Linked DNA regions of Homo sapiens. The protein of the gene in region 1 interacts with the protein of each later gene in a pairwise test. Each region holds a gene or a part of one and is shown on either strand. Other genes may lie near its edges.

Region 1 (7,040 bases):
AAATTAAAACTACAATGAGATACCATCTCATACCAGTCAGAATGGCTATTATTATGAAAGTCATAAAATAATAGACGTTGGCAAGGATGCAGAGAAAAGGGAACACTTATACTCTGTTGGTGGGAATGCAAATTAGTTCAACCCCTATGGAAAACAGAATAGAGATTTCTCAAAGAATTAAAAATAGAATGAACAATCAACCTAGCAATCTCACTACTGGGTATCTACCCAAAGGAAAATAAATCATTCAATCAAAAAGACACCTGTACTCGTGTGCTACTGCAGCACTATTCACAATATCAAAGTAATGTATTCAACCCAAGTCCCCATCAACAGCGGATTGGATAGAGAAAATTTGGTACACATATACCATGGAATACTATGCAGCCATAAAAAGAAAAAATCATGTCCTTTGCAGTAACATGGATGCAGCTGGAGGCCATTATCCCAAGTGAATTCATGCACGAACAGAAAATCAAATACTGCATGTTCTCACTTATAAGTGGGAGCTAAACTGTGGGTACACAAGGACATAAAGATGGAAACAATAGACCCTGAGGACTCCAAAATGGGCGAAGGAGGGGAGGCAAGGGTTGAAAAACGACCTACTGGCTACTATGTTCACTGTTTGGGTTAGGGGTTCACTTGAAGCTCAGACCCCAGCCATCATCCAATATACCCATGTAACAAACCTGCACATGTACCCTCTGAATATAAAATTAAAAACAATAATATATAGTTTGAAATAGCTAGAAGGACGATATTGAAAGTTTCCAACACAAAGAAATGATAAATGTTTTAGATAATGGATATGCTAATTACCCTGATCTGATTACTATACAGTATATGTATTGAAACATCACTATGTATCCCATAAATATGTACAATTATGTCAAATAAAAACAAAATTAAATTAAAAAGTAAAAAAAAAGATACAAACTCTGCCCTCAAGGAATTTTCTGTCCAGAATTAAGGAGAGGCAGTGACAACAGTGCAGGATGAGCTTGAGAGAAGAGCTGGATACCATGAAGCATCTAGGAGAAGCACCCAACCCAGCTGCGGCTTCAGAAGCAGGCAATGTCGACAGAGATACAGAGCACACATGACAATTAACCAGAAAAAAAGAAGAGAATGGAGCAGAAGAAACAGCACAGTGCAAAGGCCAGGAAGCAAGTGTATCTTCTTTCACTTTGCAGCAACAATATAGTAATGATGTTGTAGACACAACGGCAGACAGTCCTTGCTTTCATGGAGGTTGCCTGGTAGAAGAGGCAGGAAAGAAGCACAGTGTGCATACCACTCGGGTCATGTGGGTGGTCAGGGATACCCACAGCTTCTAATCAAGACTTCGGAGAAGATGGCAAGCTTCCTATCTTCAGCTGAGACACAGAGGATGATTAAGATTATTCAAGAGAATGGGGCAGATAAAAGACAATTCCAAGAAGCAAGCTCAGAAGGAGAGAGGCCATAGAAGATTCTGTAAATTATGCGGCATTCATTATGGCTACAGCACAGCACTGAAGGAATTGGGAGATATAAAAAAGCTAGGCAAGTTTGAGTCCATTGTAAAGAGCCCTGGAGAGCTAAGAACTTAGAATGAACTTCTACTATTATTTAGAACTGGAACATAACCTAAGGGATGGGATGTGTAGTGTTGTCATGAAAAGATAATGTCAAATCTTTGCCCCACCATTCTCTACCTGTTTATGATACGTAGATTTGGGCAAAACTGTTCATCTATTTCAGTTTTCTCATCTGTAAACTGGAGATAATGTTAGCATTACTTCTTAAAATTTTTTTGAGGATTAAATAATTAAGTAAAGCCCTTAGCACAGTGCCTGGTATACAGTCATTGGTCAATAAATGTCAGTTCCCTTCCTTCTATAAATAAGTAAAGAAATAAATAATAAAATGCTTTGGAAGCATTAATATGTTATCATAAGACTATTTCAAGAAAAATGGTATTATAGTACCTATTATGTGGTATAGAAGAAAAATATGCCAAGGCACAATATAAAACATATTGCTTTCACTTCCTTATTTTAGGAAATTTCAAACAGCAAAATATAAGATGCAGATGGTTGAGTGCTAACCAATATCTGTCTGACTGGAGAAATAAGCTCTTGATGAAGGATATTGACAGCTTCAACCACAGATACATACTCCCCTCACTAAAAGATGCTGTGGAGGAATCCAAGGGTTTAATCAAAACACATCAGCTCACCTAAGTTTCTTTCCAATTCCTTAATATGAATGAGTTCTCCAAAATTTGAGGCTGTATCAGCAAAATGACTTTGCAGGGAGCAGGGACAGAGGGCACGGTGAGGAGGTTTCTGGGATACTGGAGGCTGTCCTGCTGTGTTTGTTTCTAAAGTTTTTCATTACATTGAGCAAAGTTCTCAAAACTCCCAAAGCCAATAATTTAGTGTTCATTCCTTCAGGCTTTACATCATGTTTTGTAAACAACTCTTTTTTTCCTACTAGATTAGAATAAAATCAACTAATATGTATTTATTGAAGATTTTGTAGCATTCAGACATCTTGAAAGACCTATCAGATATGTATATGAAATTGAGAGTTAATAGAAATAAAGGGGTTACAAACAGGTGAAGGTCACCTCTTGCAGCATCTAAAATATTTTTTAATCATTTTCAATGGAAACTCTTAAAAGCAGGATTGTACACTTGCCTGTCTTTTCTTGCTGACCCAGGCTCATCATAATGAGCGGCAACAGCCGTACTATATCCCAATCTAGTGATATCTTTAGGGACGACTTACTGGAGTGTGCTACTGAAAAGCACTAAGTGCTATGGGGCACTGAGAGAAGAACATAGAAAGTATGATGAGTGCACAGGAGACAGTGATCGGTGCTACTGAGAAAAAGGAAGTCAGAAGAAGCTTCATGGAGGAGGAGTCTGAGCTGAATCTTTTTTTTTTTCTTTGAGACAGAGTCTCGCTCTGTCGCCCAGTGGCGCGATCTTGGCTCACTGCAAGCTCTGCCTCCCGGGTTCACGCCATTCTCCTGCCTCAGACTCCCCAGTAGCTGGGACTACAGGCACCTGCCACCACGCCTGGCTAATTTTTTTTTTGTATTTTTAATAGAGACGGGGTTTCACCGTGTTAGCCAGGATGGTCTCGATCTCTTGACCTCATGTTCCACCCCCCTCAGCCTCCCAAAGGGCTGGAATTACAGGCTTGAGCCACCGCGCCCGGCCCTGAGCTGAATCTTGAAATGTGAGTAGATGTTTGTTAGATAAACCAGGAAAGGGCACCTTAGGCCATCGTGGATGACATGATGCACTTCTCAGGTCCCTCTTCAAAACTGAAGGATTAATTCCTCTAGCTGCTGGGGGCTCTGTTGACAGACAGCCCTCTGCTGCCCACCTTCTTCATGAGCTGTCTCAGCGAAGAGATTGTTCAGCCAAGGTCATGGCCTTTCCTTTCCTGGGAAAGTCCACATTCAATGACTGGTTGATGTAGGGGCTATAAAGGCCCAGTTCTTCACCCCAACTTGGGCAAGTCAGAAGGTTCATTCCAAGTTTAGATCTCCTGGTTGGTTTCCTAAGGCCTTTGTTAGACATATCACAGCCCAACTTCCCCCTCTGCTCAATTTTGATTTCTTTCCTACCCACCCCAACAATGCTCCCTAATAAACCTCCTGCATGCTAATTCCCACCTAGATATCGGCTTCCTGAGGAGCCTAAACTGGAAGAGTTGATACCAGAAGTGGTGCATGAAAGCAGATGCTAGCTAAGATAGGATTTTGGAGTCAGACTACATGTTGTCACAGTGGCAAGGACACTGTTATTCCTGGTAGGCAGAACATAGATAGTGCCTGGCCCAAGGCAGTTATGCAATTGTAAAGACTTGCACTGGTGTTGAACAGAGATAGGATACAAGTGGAAGGGAATGTACTAGTAAGTGTAACATGTCAGGTGTTAGAGAAATGTGAGAGAAACTGTAACTTAAAGGACAATTATATTGTATTGTATAAAGGCTGCTGCTAAACACAACTGATCAGGAAAGGCTGAGAGAGGAAGTGTGAAACCAGAGGACTGGACTGGGAGCACTATGAAGAGGTTTTCATTTCCTGAAACCAGAGGACAGAGAAAGCTGAGGGCTAGGACCAGTACTTCATCATAAGATTAGCAGTGACGTCAGGTTCTGGACATAATAGAGTAATAAAACAGGGTTTACCCTCTAGCCTAAAAATCTATACAAAACATACAAAAGTAATTTTTTAAATTTGGGCATAAGGAAATAAAAAGGAAAATTAGAAAGTATTTTGAACAGAGTTAAAAATTACAAGGAGGCTGAGGCAGGAGAATGGCGTGAACCCAGGAGGCAGAGCTTGCAGTAAGCTGAGATCGTGCCACTGCACTCCAGCCTGGGTGACAGAGCAAGACTCCGTCTCAAAAAAAAAAAAAAAAAAAAAAAAATTACACAGAAAAGCAACATATCAAAATTTGCAGGATACAGCTAAAACATTACTTAGAGGTAAATTTATAGCATTAAATACTTATAGTAGGAATAAAGAAAGGTCTCAAATATTGGCTTCCACTTTAAGGATCTAGAAAAAGAACAAATTAAACCCAAAATAAGCAGAAGAAAGTAAATAATGAAGATTATAACAGAAATCAATGAAATGAAAAGCAGAAAAAAATAGAGAAAAATTAATAAAAATTAAAGCTGGCTCTTTAAGAAAATAAAATTGGTAAACTTTCAGTCAGACTTATCAGCAAAAAAGAGAGAAGACACAAACTGCCAATATTAGGAGTGAGAGAGGTAACATCATATGTATTCTACAGATATTATAGGTAACTTTATGCCAATAAATTCAAGAACATCAATTAAACGGGTGAATCCCTTAAAAGACACAAATTACAAAAGCTCACTCAAGAATATATAGATGAGCTGAACAGCCCTATATCTACTGGATATGTAGTTAAAAACCTTTCTTTCCACAAATAAAACTATGGCACAGATGTCTCCTTTGATTAATTCTACCAAAAACTTAAGGGAAAATAATACCCCATATACACAAACTCTTGTAGAAAATTGAAGAGGAAATAATACTTCCCATTATATTCTATAAGGTCAGAATTACAACCAATCAAATGCATTACAAGAAAAGAAAACTACAGATCCATGTACCTCATGAACACATATGTAAAAATCCTAAGCAAAAAAATTTTGCAAATCAAATCCAACAACATAATAAAAAAATTATACATTATAACCAAGGGGGGAGTTATCCAATGTATACGAGGTTGATATAATGCTCAGAAATCCAAGTAACATACAATATTAATAAACTAACAAAGTGATAATGTCAGTAGAGACAAAACAGCAGTTGACAAAATCCACCATCCATTCCCAATTTTAAAAAGACAACAACTCGGAAAACCAGAAATAAAAAGGAACTCAACTTGACAAGGAGCATCCACAAAACACCTATAATCAACATTATATCGAGCAGAGAAAGACTCTTCCCGTAAGAATCAGAAAAAAAGGCCAGGAAATCTGTTCTCACCACTTCAACATTATACTGAAGGTTCTAGCAATAGGCAAGGAAAAACAAGGCATCCAGGTGGTAGAGAAGTAGAATTATTTCTATTTGCAGATGATATGACTGTCTACAGAGAATATCAAATGGAATTCATATAAAAAGCTAATTGAATAAGAAAGTTTGAAAAGATTGCAGAATATAAGATCTATATGAAAAAATCAAGTATACTTCTATATACTCAACACTTACAATGGCATCAAAAATATGAAGTACTTAGAGATAAATCAGAAAAATATGTGCAAAGTCTGTCCATTGAAAACTTCAAAAATATTGTAGACATTTTGTAATATCTAAATAAATGGAGATATATCCCTTGTTTTTGGGTCAGAAGATTCAATATTGTTAAGATACTCATTCTCCCCAAATCGAGCTACAGATTTAACACAATTCAGGTCAAAATCCCAGCAGACTTATTTTTGTACAAATTGACAAGATACTACTGAAATTCATATAGAAATGTAAAGGATCTGAATACAACTTTAAAAGATTAAAAAATTTAGAGGAAAAACACTACTGGATTTCAAGACTACTTATTACAAAGCTCCAGTAATCAAGACAGTGTGAAATTGGCACAGAGGAAGACAAATAAATCAATGAATCAGAAAAGAAAGTCGAGAACACACATATACAAGCCACTGGTTTATCCAAAGGTTCAATTCAATGGAGAGAGCATAGTCCTCAACAAGTGGGGCTGGTACTACTGGATTTCCATATTAAAAAAAAAAACACACACAACAACAATGTAATCTACATCTCACATCATATACAAAAATTGAGTCAAATGAATGATGGAATAGCATAAAACCAAAAATTATAAAATTTCTAGGAAAAAAAAGAGAAAAATCTATGTAAACTTAGCAAAGATTTCTTGGATATGACATCAAAAGCAAGATCTATAAAATAATAAATTAAACTTCAAAATTTAAATCTTCTCTTTCAAAATAATTAAGAGAAGGAAAATATAAGCCATAGGTGGGGAGAAAATACTTGCAAATCATGTATCTGATGACCTATATCCAGAATATATAGAAGACTCTTAAAACTCAAGGATAAGAAAACAAATCAATGTATAAAATGGGCAAAATATTTGAAGACATTTCACCAAAGAAGATCTATAGATGACAAATGTGTCCCAGTAATACAAAATGCATTCAATAGTATAAAATTTAAGAATAAAGACACTAGATCTTCTCTAAATCACAACACACACCAGATTAAATGCACAGAGAGGAACTAATTCATTTTCCTCTTGCCACCATCCCCAGGCTCAATATTGGTCCTCCTGAGCAGACACAAACATCAAAAATAGTGGTCTCTTCAACTTTACATGAGAATTTGCACCATGACCTCTCCTTTTCTCACCAAACTGTCTCTTACTCCTAAGAGACAATATAGCAAACATACACAAGAGTGCGGGCTCTGCTTACCATCCCAGATATACCACTTACTGTGTGGCACTGGGCACGCTGCT
Region 2 (6,822 bases), on another chromosome or scaffold:
TCTGCTGGAGATGCTGGCTAAGGCGAAGCTAGGCCTTAGGGGAGGCAGGAGGTGGGTCAGGCAGAGGGTGTGGCTGGCATGCCAGGGTGAGCCCAGCCCACCTGCAGGTACAAGAGTGAGGGGCAGAGTACAGGTGGTATGACCGAGCTGAGCTCATCACCTGCAGATACAGGTTTGAGAAGGGCTGTGGAGGTAAGGAAGGTCATGGCTGCAGGTAGGGGCCCTAGGCTCAGGAGGACCGGGGGCCAGTTCGGGTGGTATGTATGGGAGAGTCAAGCTCACCCCTTTGCAGGCACAGGAGTAGGTATGTGGAGAAGGCTGGGCTTTGGGATGGGAGGCAGAGGGGACAGCCTGAGCTGTGGGCCCACCTCACCAGTCTGCAGAGGGCTGGAGGTGGGGATCTACTCATGCTTTCTGAGGCTGGCCAGTCGATGTGGCTGCTGTGACCACATGGTCAGAATTAGGCAGGGATGCCTGGGCACATAGTTCACTTTGGTAACAAAACCCCCAACTCAACCAGTGTGGGTGAAAGAGAAATCCACTCTATACGCTGGCTCATGCCTGAATCTCAGCAGTTAGAGAGGCTGAGGCAGGAGGATCACTTGAGCCCAGGAGTTTGAGGCTTGCCCGGGCAACATAATGAGACCTCATCTCTACAAAAAAATAAACTTAAAAAAATTTAGCCCCGTGCAGTGGCATGCATCTCACCCTGGGGGGCTGAGGTGGGAGGATCACTTGAGCCTAAGGAAGATAGAGCTGGCAGTGAGCTATGATCACGCTACAGCACTCAATCCTGGACGACAGAGTGAGACGCTGTCTCAAATTAAAAAAAAAAAAAAAAAAAAGGAAACTCATCAGAGAACCTGGGAGGGAGGGTGGGGTGCTGCCAGTTTAGGCACTGCCCAGTGGCTTCAGCGGCTCCCTGTGGGAACCCACTTTCCTGACTGCCCTCCCCTGGATGCCAGGCATGTGATGATCTGAGACAGAATGGCCTGGGGCCTGGCTGTTGTGCTGGGGTCACTGTGGGTCTCACACCGTTGCTCCTGACCTCTGCACGTGTGGCCCCTGAGGTCCATAAGTGAGCAGTCCCACTCAAGCAGCTCCCACTGCACCCATCCAGGGCCAGTGGGGTGAGATTCAGAGTCTGGGGGATCCCTGGGCTCTGCCCATTTGAGATCTTTGGGAATGACCAAGTCTAATGGGAATGACAAGTGTGTCAGGAGATAGGACTGTGACACCCAAACATCTTGGCTGTGGGTTTATGTGGGAAGGCACAAGAAGCTGGGTAGGACGTTCATCAATTAGAATAAGGGTTTGGAGTCAGGCACACCCGGCTACAGCCTTTTATAGGTTATGTGACCTTGGAAAGATCACTTAACCTCTCTGAGCCTCTATTTCCCAATCTGGGAAGTGGGGATAATTATAGACACCCCCCCTCCTCCACACAGGGTTATTGTTAGATTTAGATAGGCTGGGGGCTTGGTGGGAGTTTTGTAAGCTGTTAAGTGCTTTGCACAGGTGGGAGTCCCTGACTCCCTTGGTCACCCCTGCAGCTGCTGGACATCGCCGGGAATCAGCTCACAGAGATCCCCGAGGGGCTCCCCGAGTCACTTGAGTACCTGTACCTGCAGAACAACAAGATTAGTGCGGTGCCCGCCAATGCCTTCGACTCCACGCCCAACCTCAAGGGGATCTTTCTCAGGTAGGAGCCCACTCGCGGCCCTGTACACACCCCCGTGGGGCCCACCCTGGCTCCAACGGGACAGTTGATGCACGTGGGAACAGCTTGGCTCCACTGCTGCCTGTGTAACCACGGCTCAGATCTCAAGGGTGGGGACAGTCCTGGCCAGGCCCGATATGGTTCCTAGGTTTGTAAAAGGGCTTTGGAAACGTTAGAAGCCAGTGCGCATGGGCGTTGTGAATGTTACTGTGGCAGAAAGGATGCTGGACAGCATCTTCCTGGTTTGCAGCTGAGAGAGCTGAGGCCCTGAGAGCACAGGTGACTGCTGTGTCTGCAGCCATCCAGGCTGGGTCCGGGCCTCACACTCAGGAATAGATGTTCAGGCCCTCCCTGGCTTCTGGGGCTAAGAGATGGGGATTTGGAGTGATTCGGGGGATGCAGCTCCCTGAGGATATGAGGGGCTTCCATGCAGCAGAGCCAGGGTGGTTCTTCCCAGCACTTCCCACAATCCCTGCCCCCAAATCAGAGAGAAGGAGACAAGGCAGAGATGAGTGTGCTCCCAGGAGCTCGGTTGCCCAGAAAGCCCTGGGCTCGATGATATCAGGGTGGCTTGACATGTGCCTCAGGCATCTGCAGGGTAGCTGAAGCACAGAGAGTGAGGGGCCTGAGATCAGAGCCACAGCCTCCACCTTTCCACCCCTGAGTGTGGCCCTGGCCTGGCTCAGCGCTGGCCTTGCCTTTGTGCCACTCCACATCAGGCACTGCGGTGACCCCTGGCTACCGCAGCCCAGGAGCCTCAGGCCTTGGGGTTAATGCCAGGGATGGCATAGAGACAGCTCCCAAAGTTGTGGCTTCCAAAATAGCAGTGAGAGTGTGCGCAGAGAGAGACCCCTCACTTTGCAGAGACTGGCCCAGAGCCAGCCCCACCACAAGCTGCAGCTGCCCTGACCGGCCTGTACCTTCCATCATGTACTGCGCTCTCAGCCCCTGGCCTTTCCCGCCTGCTGCACCACTTTCCGGGAGGGCCATTCCCTCCCCTGTTACCTTCTGGAGAGGCCAGTCGGGGGAAGGGAGGGTTCCTTGGGGGTTGGGCTCCTGGCATTGACTGCCTCGATGCTCACACAGGTTTAACAAGCTGGCTGTGGGCTCCGTGGTGGACAGTGCCTTCCGGAGGCTGAAGCACCTGCAGGTCTTGGACATTGAAGGCAACTTAGAGTTTGGTGACATTTCCAAGGACCGTGGCCGCTTGGGGAAGGAAAAGGAGGAGGAGGAAGAGGAGGAGGAGGAGGAAGAGGAAACAAGATAGTGACAAGGTGATGCAGATGTGACCTAGGTATGTGGCCTGTATGGGGCAGCACTCACTTCTGCTCCCTGCATTTTCCCCTTCCTGACCCTGGTAGAGGGTCTTTCTGTCCATTCTTCACCCTCTCGCCTCTGCTTCATCCACCCATTTAGCAAATTTATAAGAGCACTTGGGATGTACCAGGCCGTGGGTGAAAGGTTGAAGCCTACGGGAGGCCCACACCTTCCAGAAGATTCTCACCCAGCATGAGGGTGCTGTCACGGGAGTGACCGGGGGGCACTGGACATGTGGGTCGGGGCTCAGGAGTGAGGTCTGGTCTGGAGAGAGGGATCCAGGCATTGTTAGCCTTGAAACAATCACTCAAGCTGCAGGGGGCTGGGGAAGCTTGCCATGGGAGAGTGAGTGAGGGGGGCAGGTGACTGAGACAGAGCAGTTAGGAAAGGAGGTAGGAAAACCCCAGACTGCCGTGGGCAGAGGGCATTTGCACATGTATGTAACACAGGCACCTACATGTGCACATGCACACAAATGCACACGGATGCACCAACACACATACATTCATGTGCACACACGTCTCAACATGTACACACATCCACAAACCATGCACAGGCAGAACACACACACCACACACATGCACACAGACACACATACATGCTTGTACCCCATGACACATTTGCATGCCTAGACTATGTACATACGTGCACACACGTGTGTACATGCATGTGAGTACATGCACACAAAACACCCATGCGTACCCACGTATACGGGCCCTTACATGCACACCTGCATGCACACATGTACACATGATGCGTGCATGCACAGGCCTGTCTAGAAGTGGGGACTTGGCTGTGTCAGTGCTGCTGAGGGGCTGAGGGAACTGAGCACTGAGGGAGCTGACCACTGCGGAGCGCCCACTGGATTTTTCCACCTGGAGGCTGTCTGTGACTTTGTAGCAGCAGGGGAAGCTGGGATGAGAAGAGCAGCTGGAAAGGAAGTGGGTCCAGGCACTGCAGACCAGCCTTTTGAGAAGTTTGGCTGTGAGAGATGAGAGAGGGCAGAGGTGGGAATGGAGTGTGAAGTTCAGGAAACGCTCATTTTCTGAGCCTCACAGGAAGCAAAGGCCTCTCGAGGGGAGCCCTGTGTGAGGGGCTCTGGCAAGATGCCCCGACACACACATGCATCTTCCACACGCACCCTCTTAAAGGAGGGGGCTGGCTTGGGTGCTGGTGGGAAGAGGCTGGCCTGGAGGGGGAGTCACCGATGTAGGAAAGAGCTGGCTTTGAGGGCCCCTGTGGGAATGGTAGAAGTTGCTGGCTTTAGCAGGAGGAACAAAGGGCAGGGTGGCTGCTGTCACAGGCAGATTGGTGGCTTGGTGGCCAGATGTGAAGCCATGTCAGCCGGATCCCTCCAGTCTTCCGTTTTCTCTGTGCAGCAGGGAGGTTCTCCGCAGACCAAAGGTATGGAGAAAATGGACAGGTGGATCCACCCACAGCTGAGTTTTTCAGCCAAGAGTTCAGGACAGGAGGGCAAGGAACAAGGGAGTGTGTTGGCCGGAGGCTGGCTGCAGGCATGGGTCCTGGGGTCAGGTTGGGTAGGGAAGGAGGTGCAGATAGGAGGGCTGGTGGGCAGGGACTCAGAGAAAGACATTGGAGAGGAGCCAGGAGCGGCTGTGTGGTCGGAGGAGAGAGGAGAGCTGGTGAGGAGTGAGCCAGGCTGGGGGTCACAGGGCCAGGACGTAGCCGTGGGAGGGGCTGCCGGGCCACTGTTGAGTGTTGACTGAAGTAGGGCCTGGGACGAAGAGGAACCAGAGGGGGCTGTTGAGGGCCACTTGGGTGGGTGACAGAGGGAGCTGGGAGAAGGGCGCAAGTTGATGGTGAGAGAAGAGTGTGCACAGAGTTGGGTATCCGCAAGTGTGGAGGGGCTGGCAAGAGGCTGAGCTTGGGGGTCACCTTCCCCAGCTCCCAGGGCCCGGGAGTATGAAGGTAGAGCTGGTTCTCTGAGGTGTTGTCCTCACACAGAGTTGGGGTGGGTGACAGGGTGACTGGCCATCCAGTGGGGACACCACAGCCCTCATGAGGGGCTGTGGAGTCCTGGGGTGGGTGAGAATCTGCCCCATCTCAGGTCAGTTGAGTGGGGCTCTGGGAGAAGCCCTGGGGAGTGGCTGGTGGGACCCAAAGGCCTTCTGGCACCCCGCTGGCTCTGGGCTCCCAGGGCCAACGCTCCCTCCCTACTCATAGTAGCCTGGCCTTTCCAGAGCCCCCTCCAGCAGGGCTCCCCACAGCAGGTCCCCTCAGGCTGCTTGGGCTGGTGGGTCTGCCCTGAGCTGGCCCCTGACTCTCTTACATGTTCCACAGGACGATGGACCGCCGGACTCTTTTCTGCAGCACACGCCTGTGTGCTGTGAGCCCCCCACTCTGCCGTGCTCACACAGACACACCCAGCTGCACACATGAGGCATCCCACATGACACGGGCTGACACAGTCTCATATCCCCACCCCTTCCCACGGCGTGTCCCACGGCCAGACACATGCACACACATCACACCCTCAAACACCCAGCTCAGCCACACACAACTACCCTCCAAACCACCACAGTCTCTGTCACACCCCCACTACCGCTGCCACGCCCTCTGAATCATGCAGGGAAGGGTCTGCCCCTGCCCTGGCACACACAGGCACCCATTCCCTCCCCCTGCTGACATGTGTATGCGTATGCATACACACCACACACACACACATGCACAAGTCATGTGCGAACAGCCCTCCAAAGCCTATGCCACAGACAGCTCTTGCCCCAGCCAGAATCAGCCATAGCAGCTCGCCGTCTGCCCTGTCCATCTGTCCGTCCGTTCCCTGGAGAAGACACAAGGGTATCCATGCTCTGTGGCCAGGTGCCTGCCACCCTCTGGAACTCACAAAAGCTGGCTTTTATTCCTTTCCCATCCTATGGGGACAGGAGCCTTCAGGACTGCTGGCCTGGCCTGGCCCACCCTGCTCCTCCAGGTGCTGGGCAGTCACTCTGCTAAGAGTCCCTCCCTGCCACGCCCTGGCAGGACACAGGCACTTTTCCAATGGGCAAGCCCAGTGGAGGCAGGATGGGAGAGCCCCCTGGGTGCTGCTGGGGCCTTGGGGCAGGAGTGAAGCAGAGGTGATGGGGCTGGGCTGAGCCAGGGAGGAAGGACCCAGCTGCACCTAGGAGACACCTTTGTTCTTCAGGCCTGTGGGGGAAGTTCCGGGTGCCTTTATTTTTTATTCTTTTCTAAGGAAAAAAATGATAAAAATCTCAAAGCTGATTTTTCTTGTTATAGAAAAACTAATATAAAAGCATTATCCCTATCCCTGCAGCCTGTGGCTATGTCTGTGCTTGCTTCCTGCCAGGTGCTGGCCTGGTGCCGGGTGGAGGGGGCAGGATACAAGCCCCTCAGCGCCCTGGCCAGAACAGCAGACATCAGTGGAAAGTCCAGTTCTCGGGGCCCGCAGAGTAGCTGCACAGGCAGGCATCCTGGGAGAACAGGGCATAGCCTCAGGCGAGGGGGCCTGAGGTGTGTGCAGATGGCCCACTCGGGAATAGTAGGTGAGGCCTGAACCAGCACACGCGGCCTGTGAGCTTGCTGTGCATTCCCAGAGGTGGAGCATCCAAGCAAAGGACCTCATGGGCTTTGGGCCTGTTAAGGGCTCACCTGGAGGGTCATGGGTCACCTTTGCACTGACAGGGTGTTACTAGTGGGTTCTAGAGGAGAGCAGGGGACTGGAGGCAGGCCTGGGAGCTGGAGCAGAGCCGACTTGGGGGCCCAGGTCTCCGCAGACCTTTCCAGGAAAGAGCTAACAGATGCACCCA

What was found. Proteins that work in one complex are often made in the same cells at the same time.
Region 2: the proteins of DNAAF11 (region 1) and PODN interact in binary tests that used the Homo sapiens proteins (3 or more experiments, as listed by UniProt).

The regions. Positions count from the first base shown.
Region 1 is NC_000008.11:132,665,527-132,672,566, forward strand, and holds part of DNAAF11 (dynein axonemal assembly factor 11), read right to left. Parts: intron 1-7,040. UniProt on the Homo sapiens protein: Involved in dynein arm assembly, is important for expression and transporting outer dynein arm (ODA) proteins from the cytoplasm to the cilia. Acts as a crucial component in the formation and motility of spermatozoal flagella.
Region 2 is NC_000001.11:53,079,175-53,085,996, forward strand, and holds the end of PODN (podocan precursor), read left to right. Parts: intron 1-1,518; exon of another isoform or gene 1,519-1,553; coding exon 1,554-1,702; intron 1,703-2,806; coding exon 2,807-2,987; 3' UTR 2,988-3,014; intron 3,015-5,338; 3' UTR 5,339-6,320; downstream 6,321-6,822.